Linked DNA regions of Homo sapiens: region 2 is linked to region 1. A link means that fine-mapping ties the variant in region 1 to the expression of a gene that starts in the linked region. Tissue or cell type: cerebellar hemisphere. Region 1 holds a variant in brackets; the other region holds the start of a gene. All regions are shown on one strand. Distances are between the middles of the regions.

What was found. PIP is the estimated chance that this variant, and not a neighbour inherited with it, causes the effect.
Region 2: it holds the start of FAM135A, and the variant in region 1 is fine-mapped to the expression of FAM135A in cerebellar hemisphere (GTEx, PIP above 0.99).

What each region holds. Positions count from the first base shown.
Region 1 is chr6:70,485,555-70,493,665 of GRCh38, forward strand. FAM135A (family with sequence similarity 135 member A) reads left to right here. Exons shown (of 22, transcript NM_001162529.3): 11 at 5,480-5,529. Among named protein-coding and RNA genes, the nearest start is that of FAM135A-AS1, 76 kb to the left of the region's middle. The variant C/T (reference allele first, on the strand shown) is at 4,120.
Region 2 is chr6:70,409,402-70,417,512 of GRCh38, forward strand. It overlaps FAM135A (family with sequence similarity 135 member A), which reads left to right and starts at 4,107. Exons shown (of 22, transcript NM_001162529.3): 1 at 4,107-4,301; 2 at 5,890-5,975. FAM135A-AS1 (FAM135A antisense RNA 1) reads right to left here and starts at 4,557. Exons shown (of 2, transcript NR_147708.1): 1 at 4,436-4,557; 2 at 3,427-3,661. RefSeq lists silencers at 3,914-4,133, 4,474-4,623.

The sequences.
Region 1 (8,111 bases):
CAGAGTAGTTCTTGATTAAAGAATATTTCCTTCTATTACTTACCACTTTCATTGAGTTTTCAAATAAGCATATATTTAAACTTCTTAAACTTGACTATGCTTTGAAAACTTTTCTAAAATATGTTCCCTCTTTTAAAATAACGCCTTGAGTTCCTTTCGGCTTTTTTGCCTTTCTCTTTTCTCCCAGATGAATGATGTACATTTTCTGATGACATATAATTAAATATTGGTTTGGTGCAGGGAGCTCTTACTGAACATGAGAGTCAGGAGTTCTGGAATTAGGTTTGGGCAAGTCACATAGCCTATATGAACCCCAATATCTACACTTGTAACAGCAGGGAGTTAACTCTGAGATCCCTGCCAACCTAAAATTCTGAGTCTAATTAATTAAGACATATTGGATTATGAAATGTTGAGTGGCACATACATTTAAATTAAAAAACCAAAGAAATATATACTTGAATGTACATCATTTGTAATTTTGATAAGCTAATTAACTAACTGCACTATCAGATCAACACTAAGTCTATTATTAACAAGTTGGAAAATTCTAGTAAGTTTTGTTGTGAAAGGAGTATAGTAACTAGTGCTGTGTGCAATCCTTATGACTAGCCAAGGCCAACATGCAGCTCCTATATGAGCGTCTTCTCAGAAGAAAACAGCTACGAACACAGAAAGACAACCATCTAGGTACGTTTACAAATAGCTTAAGTAAATGATCCCTTTTAATTAAAAAGTATGAAATTTTGCTTTAAATTAGCATCAGATTTCATAAATGTATATTTAATAATGTGGTATGTTTCCACCATTCTGAAGAACTTACCTTTAAAATCAATTTGGTTTGTAGATAAATTTTGGTTAATTTCCTAATTAATTTGTAATATTGAAGTTTTTACTTAAATCTGGAAATGGTAAATGCAAAACTCACTGGCTTTTTTCATATGTTTTTTAAAGTTTCTATGAAGAGCACTTTTTCAAAACCATGATTATTACTACAATTTGTTGGTTTAATGACATCGCCTTAAATTTGCTCAGTTATTTTATCTTTGGCTAGGCCTAGTGATAATGAAATGTGATTTTAAAACTAAACCAGGCCGGGTGCGGTGACTCACGCCTGTAATCCCAGCACTTTGGGAGGCCAAGGTGGGCAGATCACCTGAGGTCAGAAGTTGGAGACTAGCCTGACCAACATAATGAAACCACGTCTCTACTAAAAATACAAAATTAGCCGGATGTGGTGGCGCATGTCTGTAATCCCAGCTACTCGGAGGCTGAGGCAGGGGAATTGCTTAAACCTGGGCAGTGGAGATTGCAGTGAGCCGAGATCGTGCCATTGCACTCCAGCCTAGGCAACAAAAGTGAAACTCTGCCTCAAAAAAAACTAAACCTAGTTTTCTGCACTGCAGAAATAGAGAAGAGATGGGAGGCTGAGGCAGGAGAATTGCTTGAACCCAGAAGGTGAAGGTTGCAGTGAGCCAAGATCGTGCCACTGCACTCCAGCCTGGGCAAGAGAGTCGGACTCCCATCTCAAAAAAAAAAAAAAAAAAAAAAAAAGCTTTAAAAAAAGAAATAGAGAAGAGAAATATCCTATCAGGATCTGGGTTGTGTTGTATGTTTGTTTGTTTGTTTTAGTCAATTTGCATTTATTTTTTGTTATTCTACATTTAAAAAGCAAAATAACATCAAATCACCACTCTCTGGATATGTTATGCATGGTAAAGGAAATGTTCTGATCTCATTATTTTATTATACATTTTCATATATATGTTAGACTTTTCTTGAATAGCCATAATTTATTATCTATGAGTATATTAAAAGTTTTCACTTTGCGTTCAGTAAACCATCACAATTTTTTAAAAAATTATGAAAAGCTGTAGGAATCAAAAAGTGAAATAAAATAAGTATTTATTTCCCAATTTTCAGAGGTATGAAATGAAGGAAGTTAAAAAGCCAAAATCTATCTCAACATTTCTCAGGTGAAAACTAACTCAGAAATATTTGAGTTGTGTTAATTTTCACTAAGACTGTTAAGGGAAACTGATTTTCTTGTCAGGAAGGAAAAAGAAGAGTTGAAAATTTATTGTCATTCTTTCTGGAACATAGTATTATATTCTCATATAAAGTTACTGTAAAATTAAAGAATTCATAGTATGAAACTGTGGCCATTTATGACATTTTAGCATTTTTTAGCAATTAAAATATACTTCTAATTTAAACTATTTTATTGCCAGCCTATCAGTTTACATGTGAGCATTCTAAATAATTTTACAGAATGCAGTTTAATGTAATAAGATCTATTTTTTAAAAATGGGCCAGATCTTGGTTGAGTAGAAAAATACTTAATTTTCAAAACTAAAACATAATGAAGTTAGTTAACACTTTTGTTGAGATATCTTTTATCCTTAAACCTAACATTGTATTGCCGTTGTCTGAGCTGTGTTATAAATATTTGTTGAATGAATGGATAGATTTAGAAAATAAATGTTAGATACATGTACCCTTTGACCTAGCATCCCCACTTCTGTTCACCTGTATCATAGAAATAGCATACTAGGTAGTATGTAAAGATACAGGTACAAGCATGTTTATTGCAGTATTGTTCTTAGTGGCAAAACAGTATAAACAAAGATCAATGCCCATTATTTGGGCAAAGAGTGGAATACAGAATATATCATGATGCACCCACATCAAGGAATACTGTGTAGTCATCTTAAAAAATGCTTTAGTGCTAGGTACCAGAATACTGTGGGGTAATGCTGAGAGAAAAAAAGCAAGATGCAAAAAATTGTGCAAAATACAATCCTATTTTTATAAAACAGTGACTCCAAAACTCATATGTGTATATGTATATTTGAAAAATATGGAAGGATATGCTCTAGACTGTAACCTTGGATTAGTAATAAGAGCCAAGCCCCCCCCCCCAGAAATATATGATAATCATCACATTTATACATTTCTATAAAACTGTATAAATGGATATACAGTATACCCTTGAATAACACCAGAACTGGGGCACTGACCCCTGTACAGTTAAAAATATACCTGTAACTTTTGACTCCTCTAGTACTTACCAACTAATGGCCTACTATTCACTGAAAGCCTTACAGATAACATAAACAGTTGATTAATACATAAAAAGACTAGTATCTACATGTTTTTATGCAATCATGACATATTCATCTTTCTTAATTTTTTCAATATTTCTAGGCTACATAGTTTGCAAGTTTCATATTCTTTCCAAAATATTTATTGAAAAATACTTGTGTATAAGTGCACCTGCGTAGATCAAACCTATGTTGCTCAAGGGTCTGTTATATATGTCACTTTAAAAAGAAAAAATAATTAAAATAGGATTTTAAACTCCCTTAAAAATCTAAGTGATTTCAAAATTATTTTCAGTTCTAAGATTTTAGAGTTAAATTATGCTTTTAAACATTCTTTAAGATACTGTTTGCATTGAAGTAGCTCTCAGTAGCTATAATGCAAACATACCCATTTATGCAGTTAGGTTCTTCTATGTAAACATTAGAAAAATGTGTCACAACTCTCAAAACCTTATTTTCTAATTTTTAAAAATCAGAGGTAGAATATGTAATTTCTAAGACTAACTTTACTGATTTTTTTTCTGTCACAGGAAAAGATCATGAGTAATGTGAAAACAGATGGTGGTTTTAATGCAGAGTCTGTTGCTGGTTTTTTAGTTTTGGAAAGCCCAATATTAGAAGCCACTGGTTTATCTAACAGTGAAATGATTTGTGAAATCATTGCAAATTTCTTTAGTTACCAACAAGTTGGCCAAATTAGTGATCTATTTTTTGGTATATATCAATATCTAAATACAATTTACTTGTATATTTTGTGAGTTATGAAATACATGTGTTCCATTGATTTTTAGTTAACAACAGAGTATTTGTTGTTTATGTTACCGGGTGGGGTACAGCGTCCTTGATTCTTGTTGAAGGAAGAATTCAGCCAAGAGACACGCAGCAAGGGTTAAGCAGCAGAATTTATTTAAAGAGACAGTAGTATACTCTGAAAGATAAAGCAGAGCAAGCTTCTGGAGAGAGTGAGCTAGCAGCAGCCAGTGCTGGGGAACTCTATGAAGAATACATGATTATT[C/T]ATGAAAGGGCATGAGGAGGTGTCACTTGCAATCATGTTTTAGATGATCCCCTTGGGCATACATGCTCTGTAGTTGTACATGCTAGTACACACGTTGCTTGTCTCGTTAGCATTTAAAATCTCCACCTAGGGATGTGTTTTTTACTATTATAATGAGCAAAAGACCACTCTAGGGTGAGTTATTGGAGGAGTGCACATGCTTCAGGGTCGCAGGAGCCCAACCACAAGGCCAGGTATAACCAATATAGCCGTTGTCCTTTTTGCTGTCAGTGGGCGACATCTCCAGGACTTCTTTGCCCAGAGGCTCCCTTGCCTGCTCGTATCTGGCCGTCTCCCCACTCTAACAATTATACTGTGGTTGTGTTTTTACCACATAATTGTGATTGCTTTTTTAAACAAATTTAAATGTTTATCATTTTTATCATGTAGTAAACATTCAGTCTGTTTTACAAATTAGTCAGCTGATGAGTGAATTCAGGGATGTTATAGAATGTGTTCTTGCCTTTGTGTGAGAAAGATCAATTAAACTCTTTCACAACAAGATTATGGGAATTTTGTATGATTATAACTATGCTGTTACAGTTCTTTTAAAAGACCTGTTTGATTTCTACTTAAAAATTAAGTGTATGTAAAGATATTTCAGACATTAGTGTAATTCCTCCCTGCCAAAAATAAATAATTTATAAATCTTTATATTTTGTTAGTTTCTGTTTTTCCTGGTAAATATTATCATTTTAATTGTAAATTTGTGCACCTCTTTATAGATTATTATAGCATACATTAAGTAAATCAGAATTCTATGCAAATATCTGCCTCAGTTTAAGAATATTTTATAGAAAAATAAATACATTAGGAACTAACTATTAAAGGATCTTGACATTCATTTTTATTAAATAGCCTACACACCAGGTATGTTTTAAATGTTTCAGTGATAAAATTAATTTTACTTGAGCATTTTAGGAATAGCTTTTGTAAAACACAAGAAAGCAAGGCATATGTATATATAACACAAAATACTAAACTGTACTGGAAATTATAAAATATGAAATACAGTAAAATCTAATTATATAGTTGGTCTTTTCTGTGACACAGTTGTGCAAGTTACTTTATGTATATAGTTAATATTTCCTTGACAGTGTTAACTCTTGTGAAAAATAAAAAATGATATTTATCAGAATGTAGAATTTAATAATCACATTACCTATGTAATTAATATGTTTATGAAAATATGTTACCTTGAAATTTAATTCATTGAATACAGTCCAGATCATTCTTAATTTTCAGTTTTTTATGGGAATTTTATTTATATAAATTAAATATCTAACATTGGAATATTTCCTCTACTCTTTACTCCTTCCAGAGGAAATGGATGTAGAAGCTCGACTTACTGAACTATGTGAAGAAGTTAAGGTACTTGGATTTTTTAAATTCACATCATCAAGTTATTTGAGTGGTTTCTGTTTCCTATTCTAAATATTTTGTCTATGAAAACTTAAAGTATTTATAGTTCCTAAAATGCAAAGATAAAATGGTTGATCATGGTAGAACCACAACTTAGGTGGTCAAAATTCATTTGGCTTCAGCATGAAGTTAACTTACCTTTTAAAAAGTATATTATTCTTCATATAAATGAAATAGCAAAGATAATTAACTGATCAAACAGTACATTTTCTTCTGTTCACTCACTCAATTTCTGGACACATTTTTAAAACATCACTTAAACTTGTAAAATGATACTGTTTAAAAATGAAAAATTTGTTTTATTTCAGTAGATCAATTTGCTTCTCAGATCATTTTTTCAGTTCACTCTTGCAATTAAATTGAATATATTTGCCTTTCTTTTTCTGAGAAACTAAATGCTTTAACTATTTAAATGTATGTTTCACTATGCATTCACTCTTGGTCAGCTACATTAATGGAAGAAATCAGAGGTGTGAATCAAACAAAAATATGTATTTGGTTTGGATATACTTTTGGATATAAATTTGAATGAAGACTAGACCTGTTCAAAAAGGTATTCTCCTTAGAAAATTATACATACGCAGGATACATCAGTTTTGTATACTGTCCTAGAGGTTTTCTCTGCAGTTCAAGTAAGATATTTTCTTTAAAAAAGTCACTAATGTGCTTATGATAATTGCTCAAAAGAACATTAAACATTTAAAAATAATCTTAAGATGTGTGCAGTTAATATGAAATCATCTGCAGTGTTTCACTGAGCTATTAAAGAAAATTTGAATAAATATACATATGATACTCCTGTAGATAATCACTAAAAGATATCAAATTTTACTCCAGTCAATCATTTTAATGAGTCCAAACCAAAATCCCACTGGAAATTTAAGCTTGTTTTTAAAATCATTTCAAGAAATGTAAAGATGGCTAAGAAAAACTTTTTTTAAAATAATGTAATTTTTAAATAATACAAATGTAGAAAGACTTGCTCGACTGGATACTAAAATATATGTAAAATAATAAAAATGAAAGGAAATAAGGTAGGATTTCTCTAAAAGAATAAAAAGACAAGTCAGAGGAATTAAACAGCCCTAAAATAGTCACTATTATGTTTAATAACTAAGTATATGATAAAATATTAACATCAGGGTCTATAAATATTGTGGTAAAGTTAACGTCATGCCATGCTATAGCAGCAGTTCTAAGTGGACTGAAGACTTAAGTGTCCAAAGAAATTAGGAAGAAAAAAATTACATATATATGTAAATATAAACAATCTGATCTTGGGATATGAAATGACTCCCTCAGACAATTTTTAAAAAGATAAGTTTTTTAAAGACCAATAAAAACCTAAGGGACAAAATAAGACATTGATGATTTGAAATTTCTTTGTAACAAAATATACTATAAATTTGAAAGCAAAGGATAGACTGGAAGAGAATATTTGCAATATTTAAAACAGGCTAATGGTCAGTGCTCACAATATATAACATGCTCTCATGTATCAATTTTAAAACAACACCCTTGTAAAAAAAAAAAAAAAAGGATACAATGAGGCAGTGTACAAATAACAAATTCTTAGCAGAATAATTTAGCTCCTGAAATGATACTCATTCTTACTGGAAACCAGGGGAATGCAGATTCTAATAGGTTATTTTTTTTGCCTATGAAATTTGCAAGAATAAAAGTGACTACTGAGCTTCATTTTTTGTAAGAGTGTAGTGAAACTAGTATCTGCATACCCTGTTGGTGATGGTATAAATTGGCACAGTATTTTTTAACATTAGTGCATTGATGTATTTTTAAAACACTTATATATTGCACAATTATCAAATCTGCACAGCAGTTTTTATTTGATAATCTGTTCTACAAAAATACTCATAAATGTACACAAATATAAGGAATTACATCATTAATTATTATCAATTCCCATGTAGCCATTTAAAAGCATTAGGTGGATCTCTATGAAATTGTCATGAATTATTTAATTCAGAAAATATTTATTAATCCATGAAGCTTGATACTGTTTGCGTGCTGAAAACTCTTCAAGATATATTAATTGAAAAAAATAAAGAAAAATATGAATAATATGATTTCATATAGTATGTTAAAACTAAAAAGCTGTTTGTGTATTTTATTGTGTTTATGTGATTACATATGAAATATTTGAAAGGATATATATATTCCAAGCTTTTAACAGTAATACAGAAAAAAAGTGGCGTGACGAATAAGGTTTGTAAAGGGGAATTTTCTTTACATGCGTCTATATTAAATGTTTAAAAATAACATATGTATCCATGTATTGCTAATAAATTTTTTAGATATACATATTTAAATTTCAGTATGTAAATGGTTGTCATAAACTTTAACATCAACAACCTATAACATATTATAATGCGTCTTGAGACATGGTGAGATACAAATTCTCATACCTTGTATGTCTTTTTCAGGGATTAGTTTGGCAGTACGTATCCACAGCCAGAAAAAATATCTCCTCTTAGTGTATACCAAAAGCTAAACAGAGTTCATGTGAAGAT
Region 2 (8,111 bases), 76 kb before region 1:
TCAAATATAGCTGTGTTAGACATAAACATGGGAACAGTAGACGCTATGGACTACTAGAGGAGGAATGGAGGCAGTGGAGTGTGGGTTGAAAAACTACTTGCTGGGTACTATGCTCACTATCTGGGTACAATATACCCCTGTAACAAATCTGAACATACACCTTCTATATCTAAAATAGAAGTCGAAATTAAAATGTGTGTGTGTGTGTGTATATATATACACACGTATATATATATGTATATATATGTGTATATATATGTGTGTATGTACATATATATATAGTTGTGGAATAACTTTGACTATATCTCATTTTTAATTTTCAAATAATGACCATACTTACAACAGGAATATTTTAAAAATCATAAAGCCCAGTAAGGAAAAAGCCAGCTTAATTTTTTTTTTTAGTAAATTAATGTTTAGCATCTGACAAATATGAGACATCCTTCATGAGGCTATTTTCTTTTTCTTTCTTTCTTTTGTTTTTTTTTGAGATGCAGTCTTGCTCTGCCGCCCAGGCTGGAGTGCAGTGGTGCAATCTCGGCTCACTGCAACCTCTGCCTCCAGGATTCCAGTGATTCTCCTGCCTCAGCCTCCCAAGCAGCTGCGATTACAGGCACTCACCACCACGCCTGGCTAATTTTTGTGTTTTTGGTAGAGACAGGGTTTCACTATGTTGGCCAGGCTGGTGTCGAACTCCTAACCTCGTGATCCACCCGCCTAGGCCTCCCAAAGTGCTGGGATTACAGGCATGAGCCACTGCGCCCGGCCTTCATGAGGCTGTTTTCAAATTTACAATATTCATTTCTTCTACTGTCTCAATCTTTAGCTGAACCAATGTTGTGCAACCGAGAAAGGGAGAGATAACCTGATCTTTGGATTAAGAGAATACTCCACAGTTAGAAGGGTTTAGCAAACATTCAAAAACACTCCATGCCAAAGTTAAATTATGTAAACCAATTACAAGATAGAAAGGATTCCAAATCTTATATTCCTTGAGCACAACATAGATTGAAAAGGACACATATATAACATAAAATGTTAATGTACATTAAATGTGACACAAAACTGTTTATTAGCAGCATAATGGGTGACACCAAACTTGGGAAGATAAATATGGGAAGTAAATTTAGAATCAGGAAATTTCTAGACAAATTTCTAAAGGAATTCAAAGTCTATATAATGTGATTATCTTCTTATATTTGAGAGAAAACAGACCTAGAGAAGATAAGAGACTCTCAAGATAACACAGTATACTGTAGACTCTAGAATTAGAACCAGGTAATCTGACAATTAGATCAGTATGCTATACTCTCTAGTAGTCTGTACCTCAGTAGATGCCATAAATTTTCGTATTTCTTATTGTTTTTGTTGTTGTTGTTGCTGTTCGTTTTGGTTTTTTTTGCGATGGAGTCTCACTCTGTCACCCAGGCTGGAATGCAGTGGCACGATCTCGGCTCACTGCAACCTCCACCTCCCAGGTTCGAGTGATTCCCATGCCTCAGCCTCTGGAGTAGCTGGGATTACAGGCGCCTGCCACCACGCCCGGCAATTTTTTTATTTTTAGTAGAGATGGGGTTTCTCTACTAAACCCAGGCTGGTCTCAAATTCCTGACCTCAAGTGATCTGCCTGCCTCGGCTTCCCAAAATGCCGGGATTACAGGAGTGAGCCACCCCAGGTGAATTTTCTTATTTCTTTAAGAGATTATTTTATATTCTTCTATCAATAGATAATTACCAGGAAGTCCTGCTAAATCTCTAGGTTAGTTAAGTGCTCCTCTTCTGGGTTCCCAGACAACCCCGTACCTACCCCAATTTTAACTCTGTAGCAGAACTTGTTTTTTTTTTGTTTTTACATGCCTGTCTACCCCTGCTAGATTGCAAACTCTGAGATTTTAGACTGACCCTTAACTTTCATTATATCCCTCAGTAACTAGCACAGTATTTGGCAAATATCTAATAAGCTATATATATATATATAATGGTTGAACTGATTTGACTTTTTTTGAAGGCTCACCATGATCCTTGTCAACTTCTCCAGCCTCACATCCCTAAACAGTGGCATAGAAGTCTTAGTTTTAGTTCAGCACAAAGACCAGTTTCTTACTGTACAGCTTCTGTTCAAGCAATCCTTTTCCCTTTACTCCTCCCAACCGCCACCACAAGACATCCCACTTCAACTCTCTGGAATCATTTTCTCCTGGAAGTTTTTCCTGACCCATGACCTCTTCCCAAAGTTGGATTAATGCTTCTTCTGAGCTTCAATAGCTCTCTGTGCATTTATCTCTGCACTATACACATTACATCATAGGGTAATAATGCAAACACTCCACCCAAGTTCTTTTTCATTCATGTTGGTATCTTCCAAGATTAGCACACTGCCTGGCACACAGCAGATGAGTTAACAATGTGATTTGAATAAAAAGAACGTGGAACAGGGAAAGAATCTTGGCACACTGTGTGTTTTAGGGATGCACGGACGTGGAAATGCAAATAATTGGTTGTTTACTATATTTTCCTAAGACATGGCTGGAACTAAAAAAAAAACAGAAAAAGCCTTTCCAATTTTGAGGCTAAAGTTCAAGTCACAAAACAAGCAATAAAAGCCTGTTTAGCAAGGATAGTAAAATGGTATAGGGCTATAAAAGAAGGGACAAATTAGAAATCAGGAAAGCAGGCCATTCATACAAATGCAAATAAATTGGTTCACAGGATAAGAGGACACCCAATCATGTAAAAACTGGTACAAGCCAGGCACGGTGTCTTAGGCCTGTAATCCCAGCACTTTGGAAGGCCAAGGCGGGTGGATCACCTAAGGTCAGGAGTTCGAAACCAGCCTGACCAATATGGTGAGACCACGTCTCTACTAACAATACAAAAAGTAGTCAGGCGTGGTGGTGTGCGCCTGTAGTCCCAGCTACTAGGGAGGCTGAGACAGGAGAATTGCTTGAACTCCGGAGGCAGAGGTTGCAGTGAGCCGAGATCACATTACTGCACTCCCGCCTGGGCGACGGAGCAATGCTCTGTCTCACACACACACTCGAAAAAAAAAAAAACTGGTACAAAGATATATTCAAAACCTGTCCCCTAAATGGCCTACGTTACAAGACCTCACCATTACTTTCAAATGAATGCACAAAGCTTTTCCCTTCTAATTCATTCTTATTGTGGTAAAATATACATAACAGAAAATTTACCATTTTAACCATTTTTAAGTGCACAGTTCAGTAGCATTATGTCCATTCATTGTTGTGCAACCAACACCACTATCCATCCTAGATTCATTTTTAAAACAAGAGTCGCAGCTGAAATTTTCCTTTCATTAACTCAGCTTTAGCAACATACTGAACTTTATGCACCACAAAAGTTTTTGCCAGATAAGGTTCAGAAACAGGGAAGAGTGAAATAAATCAATGATCCTTCGTGGGCTTCTGTTAACGGAATGTATTAGCGAAAGGCTTCACTTCATCAGCCCCCTCCCGCCCTTTTTGGCGTCATAAACCAAGAAACAACCAGATCAGCACCCACATCTCCCAAGATGCAAACACTGGGTCCCGAAAGGCATCTGTCCTGCCCCGGCGCAGATCCCCTGCAGCCTCCTTTCCTACTGCACAAATCGACTAGCGCAGGGACCGGGCTCTCTACCCGGGACTGCACGGAGGAGCTAAAGAGAGAAAAGGAGAAACAACATTGTGAGAAAAACGGCTAAAGTTCTCGAACTCCGTGTTTTTGCCCTCTTCTTGTTCACTACTCTTCAACCACCTCCAAGTTCCATCCCTTAAACCCACAAGCGAGCCCCTTTTCTTGACGCGCGCCTTTTATTGACGCAAACCTCCCGTTCTCGCGGGAACTTGGGAACGGGAGCCTGGTAGGGAGGACAAATCTCTCGAAATCTCAGTTGGCGCTGGAGCTGGAGGGGCAGTTGAAGCTCCTGAAGGGCGGGGCACGGAGCTTGAAGGGGCGGGGCCTAGCCTCAGAGAGGGGAGGGAAGAGGCGGGAGGAGGAGGTGAGAGAGGCCGGGGGCGGGGCCGTGCGGCCGGGGACCTGTTGATCGCAGGTATAGCCGGCTGGCCCGGGCTCCCTCGGGACTGGGGCGACTGCGCATGCTCGCTGGCCGCGCTGGGCCAGTAGCCGAGCCGCGGTGACGAACCGGCTCCGCGGTTGCGGTGTTTGCGGTTGCTGTGATGGCGATGTGAGGGGGCCCGGGGCGGGATGGTGCTGACCCGGGTCGGGCCGTCTTCTTGCAGCTGGACAACGAGCTCCTCCGTTCGACAGGCGGGGGAAGAGGCCGAGCCGGGCGAGAGGTAACCCCCTTACTGTCCCCTCTGGCTCCCCCGGCTCCCGACACCCACGACCCCTCCCTCCGTCCCTCTTGCCCAGGGGCCAGGAAGGAAGCGGCCTCCTCTTCGTCCGCCGTTCGCCCGCCGCGGCCCCTCACCCGACTGCTGGCGGTCGGAGCCTGGCCCCGGCCCCGTTGAAGGTCGGTGGGGACGGCGGTGCGGAGCGCTCTGAGGGAGGCGAGGGGCCGCGGCGCGCTGCTCTCCCGGTGCCCGCGGCCGCCCCTGCCCCTGCGCGCGTCCCTCGACCCGTTCTTCCTGAACCTCGCGCCTAGCGTGTTTGCCCTTCACCCCTGCTCCATCTTCGTCGCTCTGTCCCTCCTTTACCCGCTTTCGTGGTTCTGCTTTTTCATCCCGCGCCTCCCACGTGTCTTTTTGCCCGGGTGGTCCCTCCTTGGGAAGCAGCGTATCTCTGTGCTTCCATCCCTTGCCTGGCTCTTCCCTGTCCGGAGCTCCTTACCCTGGCCGACCAGGTTTCTCACTCTTGTTACCTCCATAATTTCTTCCTTGGTTTTATTTTCCTCTCATCCACCTCCTTTCGGTACTTCCTCCTGGTTCCCTTTTTGTTAGTTGCCGATTGTGTTTTGCTTTAGCATCGCTTTGCATTGGAGTTCATTCCATGCCCCATCTTAGCTTCGGAAACCCTCACTGCCTTCTCTTTCCTCTGGTACCCTGCTTCATCGCTTTCTGTCTAATGGCCCCTATCCTCACGTCCTTTTCCATTCTGCACCCAGTGAGTCTCTAATCTTAATTTTTTCCCCTCCAAAACTCTTCCACCCTCCCCCCCCCATTTGTATAAGTCAAGCCTCTTAACTTCATTCCATTTGTTTTACTTTTTATTAAATCTCTGAAGACTTCTTTGTGACATACCCTTCTAGTCCTTGCTGCTTTCTGCCTAAGCTAGGTATCCACTCAATGTTTCTAGTTCATCTTCCAGTTTAATAACATTTCTTCTTTCTTTACCGGTTGGTGGAAGTATCATCAAAAGAGTGACAGTAGCAACAAATCGGTTACACTTACTGATTAAAGCTTTAATTTTTAAGAATTATGTTTACCTGGCATGCCTGGGAAAGCAACTTGAGTACAGACTAAATGAAACTATAATGGGTTAAGACTTGTTAAAGGTTGACCTACAAACATACACTTAAAATTTGGAAATTTTCTTGTCCTCCATTAGGTGTAGCTGTCCAAGAACTAATCTTAAATGAAATTTAACAGAATTTCTTTTTTAAAATGTATTATTAATTTGTTTTATACATTTGCTATTGCAATTGATTGCATAATTTTCCTGAGAGTCTCTGTTCTCTAATAAATGCATACAATTTCTGCTACCTTTAGAATTAGTGTGCTTATAGGAGACATACGTGAGAAGTATTAAATTTTTTAATTGAGCAGAAGAACTTTCTAAACGGTTTTGTAATTTTTTTCCTCCATTGCATTGTGATCAAGATTTGGCTTAAATAAAACTTCTCTTTCCATAAATAATGGTATAGTATCTTATTTTGAAGGCATCTGCTGAAGCAATTATGTTTAGTGAAGTTTGTCTTTATTGTAGGGTTGAAGATCAACTGGATTATGTATTTGGTTCTGGAATCTCAAAGCAGTCCACAAACAAATTCTTCCTTATGTTGTCTGTGTCAGGTAGGAATTAAGTTTTCTGTTTCTGTTTTAAGAAGGGAAATACCAAGGCAAAAAAAAAAGTGTAGTTCCTTATTCAAAGTGATTTAAAGTAAAACTAGGAGGCTCTGGTGTCATCAAACCACACTTCTTTGAGAAGAACTAGCAATTGTGTATGGTAAGAGGTGATGCACTCATCAGCTTTTAAGATTTTTTAAAAATGATTTTTCAAATGCAAATAAAGAAACTGCTGCTTCTCAAGGAAGCTTGCACTTCCTTCAAATAAAAAGCCAGGTCTTTTTATTTTTAGGTAAACATTCATTTTAAAAAAGTAAATGCCTACAAATTCTTGCTGGTATTTTTAGTGAGTTGGTTCCTGTGCTCTTATAAATTAAATAGGGATTTGTGGTGGACAGCAGGCAGAAGACTAGAATTTCTAGTCAGAATATATGAACTCTTATGATGACTCATGACATTAGTTTGTAGAACCCACTTAACCTGTGTATCTCAGTATCTCCAGCTGTAAAGTAATTAATAGCAAAGCAAGCCCTAATCATTTAAACATGCTTAGGGCCACCGCAGACAAAAATTGCTATATAAATACTTAGTTTTTATCTCTTTAATTTTAGACTGTGTAGTAAGAGTATAATTGACTGCTTAAATCCCAAATCAAACATTTCTTTTTTAAATTTCAGACTTCTGTGAAAAGTCTAGTAGAATGCTGGTGAACTGTGGACTAGCACTCTATTAGACTTTTCTAATGTACTAGATAGATGTACCAAATAAAATGACCTGGCTTTGAAAGAAGTGCAAGCTTCCTTGAGAAGCAGCAGTTCTAATGTACTAGAGTTTTCTAATTAGTACATTAACTAATGTTCACACATTAGTTAATGTTCATACACAGTGAAACAGACACTGCAGCATTCAGTTTGTAAAACAGATATTCCTTTTGTTTGCCACGAGTTGACACTGAAAGGAAATGTAAGAGTTACACCTATATCTTTAGTTAATCCTTAATTTTCTGTTTTATATTTTTATTTTGTTTACATTAAATAAAATCTTTATTTTGTTTACATTAAATCCTTGTTGTGAGGGCTGTTTAGGGGGTAGAAAAGCCAAGGATTTCCTTTGCTTTGATTCTAGGTATTGAGGAAAAAGTGCTTTAACATTGAGTTTTTTATATGTACATGTGTGCATTTAAATAAATGGATGGAGCTGAGGGCATATAGATTTGAAGTGTTTTTTCATGAGTTGTTTGTCAGGAAGAAGGTTTAGAGATGACTAGGAATAAGGTGGGGTGTGGTGGCTCATGCCTGTAATTCTAGCACTTGGGGAGGCTGAGGCAGGAGGATCTCTTGAGGCCAGGAGTTCAAGACCAGCCTGGGCAACAGAGCGAAACCCTCTCCTAATTAAAAGAAAGAAAGAGGAATAAGAAGCAGAATGGTAATATAGAAGAAATCATTCTTAATGGACTCAGTGGTTTTTCAGAAAAGTTACAAAGCATAAGTGATTAGGCAGGTCTAGGTTTTTCAGAAGGAATAAGGTGAAACAACTCCACAGTAGGTTCACATTTTATTTTTAAAGATTGGCAGTTGTTAACAGGTACATACTTGGTTATTGATAATGTGCTAAATTTAGAAGAAATATTAGCTTCTTTTTTCCTAATAGAAATGTAAAAGTATCAGGCATATTATACCATTAAGAGACATCTCCTACTTGAGTAACTAACCCTTCAGGTAGTTCTTATTTTGATGAAAAAAATTTGATAAACTATCTCTCAACCGAGAAACCATTCTGAGAAAATTATAGCATATTTCCTTTTATGGCATTAGGTCTCTATGAGATCATACAGAATATAGAACATATTTCTAAATTATGTTATAAATATATTGATAATAGACTGGGACTTTTTTTTTTTTTTTGACAGAGTCCCACTGTATTGCCTCTACCTCCCGGATTCAAGCGATTCATGTGCCTCAGCCTCCCAAGTAGCTGGAATTACATGCCCAGGCCACCACACCTGGCTAATTTTTGTATTTTTAGTAGAGATGGGGTTTCACCATATTGGCCAGCAGGTCTCAAACTCCTGGCCTCAAGTGATTCTCCCGCCTCAGCCACCCAAAGTGCTGGGATTACAGGCATGAACTACTATGCCTGGCT